Linked DNA regions of Homo sapiens: region 2 is linked to region 1. Evidence: fine-mapped expression QTL. A gene starts in region 1. The other region holds a variant in brackets. All regions are shown on one strand. Distances are between the middles of the regions.

What was found. PIP is the estimated chance that this variant, and not a neighbour inherited with it, causes the effect.
Region 2: its variant is the best candidate, but not a certain one, in a credible set for the expression of CCM2 in whole blood (INTERVAL, PIP 0.90).

What each region holds. Positions count from the first base shown.
Region 1 is chr7:44,998,029-45,002,413 of GRCh38, reverse strand. It overlaps CCM2 (CCM2 scaffold protein), which reads right to left and starts at 2,213. Exons shown (of 10, transcript NM_031443.4): 1 at 2,051-2,213. The coding sequence starts at 2,080. It overlaps LOC102723334 (a long non-coding RNA gene), which reads left to right and starts at 2,406. Exons shown (of 4, transcript XR_428139.4): 1 at 2,406-2,696; 2 at 3,041-3,134. RefSeq lists silencers at 1,737-2,266, 2,897-2,946.
Region 2 is chr7:45,072,332-45,076,716 of GRCh38, reverse strand. It overlaps CCM2 (CCM2 scaffold protein), which reads right to left. Exons shown (of 10, transcript NM_031443.4): 7 at 3,934-3,991; 8 at 3,146-3,257; 9 at 2,309-2,447; 10 at 264-940. The coding sequence ends at 660. Among named protein-coding and RNA genes, the nearest start is that of NACAD, 14 kb to the left of the region's middle. RefSeq lists a cis regulatory region at 2,227 and enhancers at 2,143-2,312, 2,910-3,569, 3,570-4,229. The variant T/C (reference allele first, on the strand shown) is at 2,092.

The sequences.
Region 1 (4,385 bases):
TATTTTTTGTATAGATGGGGTTTTGCCATGTTGCCCAGGCTGGTCTCGAACTCCTGAGCTAAAGTGATCGAGCCTTGGCCTCCCAAAGTGCTGGATTACAGGCGTAGCTACCATACCCAGCCTAATTCTGCATTTTTTGAAGAAGCTAACTTAGAAGAATTTAAGCGTCCAAACTGTACCTTCATAAAACTATTGTCAGCACTTCTGCTACTTATGTCTGAATTTGTGTATAAGTTTAGAGCAATGCAATTTACCTTAATGAGAATGATTTAACCACCGAAGTTATTAAACTGGAGGTGATCTCACATTGAATGTGGTAGCTGAGCAGGAAGGTTCTGCCAGCTTGCAACTGGCAGAGTACACGAGGTAGTGTTAAGTCATGACCTGGAGAAGAATCCATGCCCCAAAGCTCCTTGTCTGGCTTGTCTACAGGAAACAAGCTAAGACAAGTGGCAGAATACAGAAAAAACACAAAACCCCTGGCTTAAGCAACTACATAACAACTGATTATCTCCTCTAGTGAGAAAATGAAATTAATAATTAACCTGTTTATGCCTAAATTTTTTCATTACCCAACTGGAAAATTCTTGATAATTTTACTGTTTTTTCACTTGTACCCCAAAAACAGTCTTACTGCTTCTCTCTCTCTCTCCCTATTTGCTGGGTGTTTCATGTTTCTACCAAAGCTGATAGACAGCTCTAGAAAAAAAAATCACTCAATTCCATCCTTGCCTATCACACACAGGTAGATGGGCCAGGTACTCCTGTAAGCGGTGCACAATGAGGTCATCAGTCCTTAGCGCGCTCTTGGATCCCGGCATTCCACAGAGCACATGGCTCACTTTCCGCAAAGCTCAGCATCATCCACACTCGGGCCTGATGGTCCCTACTAAGCAGCCACCGGGTTAGCACCTCTCCTTTCCAGCTAACTCCTTTTACACTGCTTGGCTCCTCCCTCTTCTGTGCGCAGCACGCATCTCTAATCTAACACCTGCAGGCTGAATCACTATCTTGAGCTATTTTCCAGACTTAAAACATCTTTGTAGATAACCGCAAATTATACTGCACCTAAATTAGACATGCATGGTGCTAACATGAAACAATGAGTTGAGAAAGTAGAGAACCAGCACCACAGGACTCCCTGAAGGCCACCTGGCTACATTCTATTTCAAACAGGACTTTTAAATGGGGCACTCTGTCAAACAAGGTGGTGAGTAGCTGTCAATTAAAGGACACTTCCCTGCAGAGTTCAGGGTAGTAAAATCATAGTTAGGAATTATCGAGGTCTGCTTTAAACTTGTGGATAAAAGTGCGCACACACACATCAAAAAGAAAATGATAGCCAAGACGTGAAGATTATAAAGCATTTATTTGAAAAAGATACATTTTATTAAAATCCATTTTCCACTTTAATGGTAGTTCAATCCACATCGTTTTTCCAGTCTTAAAATGTTTCTTTATCGACTACTATAACCCTTTACTGTAATTAAAGCCACATTTTGTAAAACTACATAAACTGGGGTTTGACTATGAACTATGTCCTAAATCCCACTGCCAAATGTAGCTAGCGTCACTAAAATCAATCAATGGTTTTAGGTCTGAGTGATAGTGGACGAGTGAGCTGGCCATAAGGTGAAGGCCACCCTTGCTTTTACTGGATATCCAAAAACGAAGTCCAGTGAGCAGCAAACGTCTCCACGTTAACCACACAGCCCACTAGCTCCAGTTCCAGCCCTGGACAGCTTTCTGGCCCCTCGCCGGGCCCACTTCCTCTGCAGCCCCAGGTCCCGACGCGCAGGGAAGGCCGTCTGGGGCCGAGGTCGGGGCGAGCCGCTGCCCGGGCCAGAGGAAAGGCGCGGCGCTTCCTGCCCGCCCGGCCGCGAAAGCCCACCTGACCATTGTCCGGGGTCTCGCCCTGCCCCGCCCCGCCCCGCCAGCTGGCCCACTGCCCCCCCCCCCGGGCCCCAAGGAACACCCGCCCACCCCACCCTGGCCCCTCAACCCAGCCGCCCGCCGACCACAGCAGTAGGACGCCCCCGCGCACGCTCACCTTCTTGCCCTTCTTGCCCTCCTCTTCCATATCGCCGCGTGCGGCTCCCGCGGCCCGCCCGGCCCGCCCCGGGAGCCCCGCCGCCAGCAGCCGCTACATGCTCGACCCGGGCCCGCCGCCCCCGCGCTCCCGGCGCCGCCCGCCAGCCGGGCCCGAAGTCTCCGCCCCGGCCGCGCCCCACACCCGCACTTCCGGGCCCGAGCCCCCTCCGCCCCGCCCAGGCCCCACCTTCCCCAGCGCAGGCCCCGCCCACGGTTGTCGCTCATCCTCACTTTCAGGCCCAAGGGAATCCGACCCGCAGCGATCAGACCCCGCCCCTTCAGGGAGAACACGGCCCGTTGGCCCCGCTCACGGCGAGAGCACCGCCCACAGGCTGAAGATCCTGCCCCTTCAGGACGGCCGAGAACGCGCCTGCCTTGCACCACCCCCACCCCGCCCCGCGTCCTTCAGGAGAGCCGGAAACGCTCCTACCCCTACTTCGCTTCTGCACGGCCGCGAGAACGCACCTGTCCAGCCCCCTGTTCGCTCCGCCCACTCAGCGCGCGCGGGAGCGCGCGCGGGAGCAGCTCCAACTTTTTCAATTTGCCGCCATCTTTACGGCGGCCGACTTCCCAGCCTGCCTCGCGTCCAGGGAGGCGGAGCTCAGGTCTCTGAAAAGGGGACGGGGGGCGGGGGACGGGGGACGGGGGCCGGCGGGAGGGGACGCGGCCGGCAGATGGCGAAGGAGGGGCGCGAGGAGGCGGCCACTGTTGAGGGGCGGGGCGTCCCGCCGAGAGTCTGGGTGCGGTGCGGTTTTCTTTTTTCTTGTGTCCCACTTTATTCCCTGAGCCACAGGGAATCCGTTTTCTAGTACTTCTCTGTTATAAAGTCTGCCTGCCTTAGACAAACACATTTGGAAAATAGAAGTGCAACCACAAGGATGTGCAGACCCTATCAGAATAAAATCGTAGAACCTTACCAGTCATCCGGTATAATTTCCACATTTTCCAGATGAGGTCCGGGGAATGAGGTGATTCGCCCAAAAGCACACTACAAATTGGAGTCACCAGCAGGTCTGCTATTTTGCCACTAAACCAATCTGCCGGTAAGAACTTTGTAGCACAGCTAGAATGTAAACTGTGTTTTTTTGGTGGTTTTTTTTTTTTTTTGAGACGGAGCCTTGCTCTGTCGCCCAGGCTGGAGTGCCAGTGGCGTGGATCTCGGCTCACTGCAAGCTCTGCCTCGCGGGTTCACGCCGTTCTCCTGCCTCAGCCTCCCGAGTAGCTGGGACTACAGGCGCCAGCCACCACACCTGGCTAATTTTTGTATTTTTAGTAGAGACGGGGTTTCACCATGGTCTGGATCTCCTGACCTGGTGATCCGCCCACCTCGGCCTCCCAAAGTGCTGGGATTACAGGCGTGAGCCACCGCGCCCGGCCTAATAATTCTTTATATTAAACTTTTCTTTACTGTGTTTCTGTCTCCTGACTGGGCCTATGTTATACTGATATTCAAAAGAAATACTTGGTCTCTAGACCTCTCCAAAGGCATAAGTATTCCATTCTCTGCAAGATAAAGCAGAGATAGTGGAAACACCCTTTCAATCTGCCTTCTGCAATAATCCAGCTTGCCACATTTACACACGCAAATGATGTAGCGCATCTGGTTGTCATTATTTTCCCACCATTCACAGAACAAAGGCCTGATATTTAAAGTCTTCCACCGTCTTCCACAAATGCATATTTATCACTCCATAATACAGTAAACAACACTACTAAAACTTCTCTTAGCCTAACTCTGGATGTGCTGACTTCCTCAGGCTGTTCTTATCCATCAGAATACCTTTGCCCTGTCTTTGCATACACAGGTTCATGCTTCAAGCAAAAGTCCACTGGCTAATGATCAGATGGTGATAACTGGGAATAAAGACAATAAAATGAGAAAAGCAAAAAGGCTGTTAGCTTGCTATAACAAGGGAGTCAGCCACCATCATTTGTATTTGGATGAGACTCAATGTCAGGCAGAGGAGTGGGTAAGCTTTATAGTGAAAAAAGGGAAGCCTCCAGGGATGTCCTCATTTGAGGCTGTTGGCCTGGGGAAGCAAGGGGCAGGGCATCCCAAGTGATTGGTTAGGGGCACATATTTGTCTTTCTCTGGTTGCTCCTAAGCTGGAAGCAGGACCGAAAACTAGGAAAGCTGCCAGTTTTTTTTTAATTGACAAATAATTTTTTGTTTCTTTTGTATTTTTAGAGATAAAGTCTCACTCTGTCCTTCAGGTTAGAGTGCAGTGATGCAGTCATGGCTCACTGAAGCTTCAACCTCCTGGGCTCAAGCAATCCTCCCATCTCAGCCTCCC
Region 2 (4,385 bases), 74 kb before region 1:
CACGCTACCCTCACACACGCTGCCCACGAAAGGCCTCAGAACACCCGCTCCTGCCCCACATCCACACTGCTCAAGTCCAAATCAAGTCCTTCCTGTGGCACAAGAGCCTGTTGCCTCCTCCACCCCAGCCCCCAGGGACCACTGCCGAGTCCCAGGTGCTGCAGGGCAGATGGGGACCCAGGGACAGAGGCTAGAGCGGACACCCCTCCTGGCACCGATGGCTTTCACCCAACTGGATCAGAAACATGCTTGGCAACCAGAGATTAAATTATTCACATTGCAGTAAACTTCTTTTTAAGGTCTCTGAGAGTTACAATAGGAACATCATGTGCAAAACTGACAGCCGTCCAAGGGCCCAGCCGACAGGACTGGCTCTCCCTGCCCGCTCGGCCGGGCCCTCCCCGAGCGGGGACACACTGCAGGGCTTGGCTGAGCCCTGGTGGACAAGGCAAAGAGCCTTCCACCCCGCACTGAGGCTCGTGTCCCTCGGCAGCTCCCTGCTCCTTCACAGTAGAGGACCTGGGCCGCCCGGGGCCATCTGCACCGGGCGCCTCTCCCTGGCCACCACCAAGGGCTGACACGCAGGTCTGGGCAGCTCCTTCTGGGAAGGCCTATGACGACTGCGCGGAAGGTGTGGGTGCCCCCCCATCCACTGTCCATCATGCTGAGTCCTGGTCCATGCTGCAGCCCAGCGCCTCAATGTCGCTGCTGATGTCCGAGATCATGCGGTCCCACTCATCCCCCTCTGAGGGTGCCGACCGGTCATCAGAGCTGCCCGTGGCCCTGTTCCCATTGGTGGTGGAACTGGATGTGGTGCTCAGGGCCCGCCGGTGCCTGCCAAAGCTGTCAGTGATGATGCCGCGGCCATCCTTCACGCCAATGGTCTCCAGGAAGTTCTCGAAGTGCTGGCTGTCCTTCTCAGGGATGAAGGGCCTCAGACCTGCAGACACACAACACCCAGCATGGCACCTCCAGTTCGGCTCAGCCCACTCAGCTCTTCTCTCAGGGCTCAAAGCCCCCTGACAGGGCCACAGCTGCCCCTGGTGCATGGCCTTGGGGACCCTGATGCCATGCTCACTGCATCTAGCATCCTGGTTGAAATCATGCTTCCTGGGGCCAGACAGTTTGGCTAAAACCTCAACTCTTGACAGACACTGCTGCTGGCCCTGACAGCTTACTGCCTCTGCCACATGCACACTCCCTGGCCTCAAGGCACCAGCACAGGCCAAGAACCTGTGGCCTCCTCTCATTCTCTATTAGTCCTCACAAAGGACCCATTTTACAGTGGGGAAAGCTGAGGCCCAGAGCAGTGCTCAAAGCCACCTGCTGGCACCCGGCAACAAGGGTGCAGTCCTCAGAGGCAGGCCTCATGCCAAAGTCCAGTTTCCCTGCCATGACCTAGGTGACTGTCCCAACTCAGAGGGCTGCCCTCTTATTTGGGAAGCCTAGTGTGTCTCTCAGAATCTCTACTCCCCGATGTGGAGGGGCAGACAGAGTCCCATGCCAGGAGGCAACGCAGGGCCCAGCACAGAAGGGGCAGGCACTGCTTAGACAGAACCTATTGTACAGACAGGCTGCCCCAGCCTCCAGCCCTTCACGCTCCTAAGAGCGGGGAGCCCTGGGCAGGCAATCCACGTTTGCCACTGCCAGGTCGGTACGATGGTTAACAAACCCACCTTCCTTGGTTTGCAGGGAAAACAGGCCAGGACCCAGAAGCCTTCAACTGGCTACTAGCAACACATTACCGCAAACTTGCTGTGTTCTAAGTGTCGGCAGAGGGAAACCACAGCTAAGTCACCGCCCCTGAGAGGTGTGGGGCCAACATCCAACTCTGCTGCTCAGACCACACAGCCCTCTAGCCGCACTGACCTAATGTGCCGAGCATTTTAGGGGTCTTGGCAAACGCTGGTCCTTCCGCCTTGAAGTCCTACACATTCACCAAAACCCATGCCTCTCTGGCTCCTCCAGCACTGTTTTCCTAAATCTCAGGGTTGTGTTCACTCCCAGCCCTGCTCCTGGGGGATCTCTGCTACTTCCTGGCAGGGCCCACCCAGCTCAGCTTGAGTTCCCAGGAGAATGAAGGCCTGTCGG[T/C]GGGCCCCCAACAGTACCTGGGAAAAGCCCTTCTGACTAATCACAGCAGATTCCCCGATCTCTGGACTCTGCTCTCATGCCATCTCTGGTTCAAATCTCCCATCCCTGATGGAGCCCCTGCTGCACCCACTGAGGGGTCCGTGTGCACATTCCCAGGAGGGATCAGCCTCTCCAAGCCAGGTTTGGACAAGCCACCCTCTTTCCAGGGCCCACTCACCAAGCAGCAGGAACTTGCGGCTGTCCCCGTAGAGCTGCCGCAGGTTGATGCAGAACTCGTGGATAGAGGCCCCATTGCGGTACTCGTGCAGCAGTGCTGCAAACTGCTGGATCTCCTGTGATGACAGCTTGGTGCGCAGCTGCAAGAGAGCAGAGCCAGATAGGGGGCTGGGCACAGTAGGCAAGAGTCGGCAGTCGGGCCCACCTTGCCACAGCCACTAACCCCAGCCAGAGCACCAGCTGTCTCTGGCTTCACCTCTGCACAGGCTGGGGCATCAGAATGACCACAATGTGTCCCCATCCTACCAGACCTGGCACGGGGCCACCCAGAGGAGACCAAGGCACCCGGGCAGCTCCACTCTCCTGAGCTGGAACACAGAGTGCATGGGAGGGACAGGAGCCAGCAGGGCAGGGTGGAAGTTGGCAACCTGGCCCGGGGCCAATGCCTGTGCCCTTAGGCTACACACAGGCACACAGGCAAATCAGGAAGACTTGAGTTTGCAATGACAGAACTATATAAGATGGGGAGGATAAAAATGTCTGGCCATGTGGCCTTGCAGGGGCCACCGTTCCCTCCCCTCCCCCAGGACCCAAGCACAGGCCCACAGTCCAGCCCTGACGGCCACAGCACTCCCAACTCAGCCCCACTGACTGATGCTCTCCTAGACTATCCCCAGGAAAAGGCAGTGATGTCAGCAAAATTGACCAAGAGTGCTCTAGGTGACCTCACTCACTGCAGCCTGCCCTGCACTGCTCCTCCTCCTCCTCCCCTTCCCCCCATCCTCCCTGGGGCACCCCCTCCCTCATGCAGCCCAGCGTCCCTGCAGCGGAGGCCTACCGTCAGCATGTAGTCCTGCAGCAGCTCAGTGGCGCTGGCGCTCAGCTCGCTCTCACTGATGGTCTTGCTGTGGGGTGATGCACCACCCACATCCACAGATTCAGGGAAGCAGCTGCGAAAGAATGTGGTATGTGAGCGGGTGGCTTCCCCGACCCTCCATCCCACACACGTTTCAGGAAACCTAGTCCATGCCGTGTGTGTGGGTCCCTGTCCTTGAACAGAGGAATGTAAGTGATGATGATGATGATGAGAGGAGAGCTGACTGGGCATGCAGGGTGGTCAGCTTGGCCTGGTCCTGGGGCTCCCCGGGGGCATGGCTCTGAGTTGGGCTCTGAGTGAAGAGAGGGAGTACACAGGTCAAGGCAGTGGGCAGCATTGTTGGGCAGGGGAAGGAGCCAGGGTTGGGGAGGTGGCAGGAATGGAGAGCGCGAGTGGGTGAACTACTACAGAGCCCCAGGTGGTGGCAGAGATGGGCTGGAAGGCCAGCGCCTCGGCAGGCTCGGGCAGGGGAACAGCTCCATCCAACATGCCTATTACAAGCTCACTCTTGGGAGGCCATGGGAAGGTAGGCAGGGAGAGACAAGAGGGACAGCAAGGGCTCTAGAAGTCTACGAGGAGAGGGCGGCGAGCCAGGCCTCAGCCATTCACTAAGCTGGGTACAGTGGGTCTGGGGATGGCTTAGCGAGGGTGAGCTGAGATGGGGGAGCTGACTGGCTGCAGCCTGGACAACACCAGACAACGCATTTGGTGCGTGTCCCACCGCAGGGCTTGGTGGCATGTGCACTCACAAAGTGCTGGCTTCCACCTCGTAGGTCTCCTTAATGTCCACTTTTGTAGAAGAGTCATCTGTAAGGAAGATGCAGAAAACTAAGATGACTTTCAGGGACATAGTGGGGAGGCATTTTGAGTCCAGCCCACTGCTGTATTTACAGGAGACAGCGGCAGCCCTGGTCTTCAGGGACCCTGCTGTCCTTCATCAAGCTGCCCGCACTCTGGAATGTGCTGTGTGCCTCAGGGCAGGGCTTCCCAGACTTGAGCCCACATACACCCCTCCTGGGGATCCTGGCAAATGCAAATCCTGCTGCACGCTGGGCTGAAGTACACATTCACCCATGGCCAGAGCCAGCAAAAGCTGTCTTTGAGGTATCACTCATGTGCCAGGCAGGGTTACTGGGGCTTTGTCTCCTTTAACCCAGGCATATATCACCCCTGTCTTCACTTGTAGATTAGGAAGTAAGTC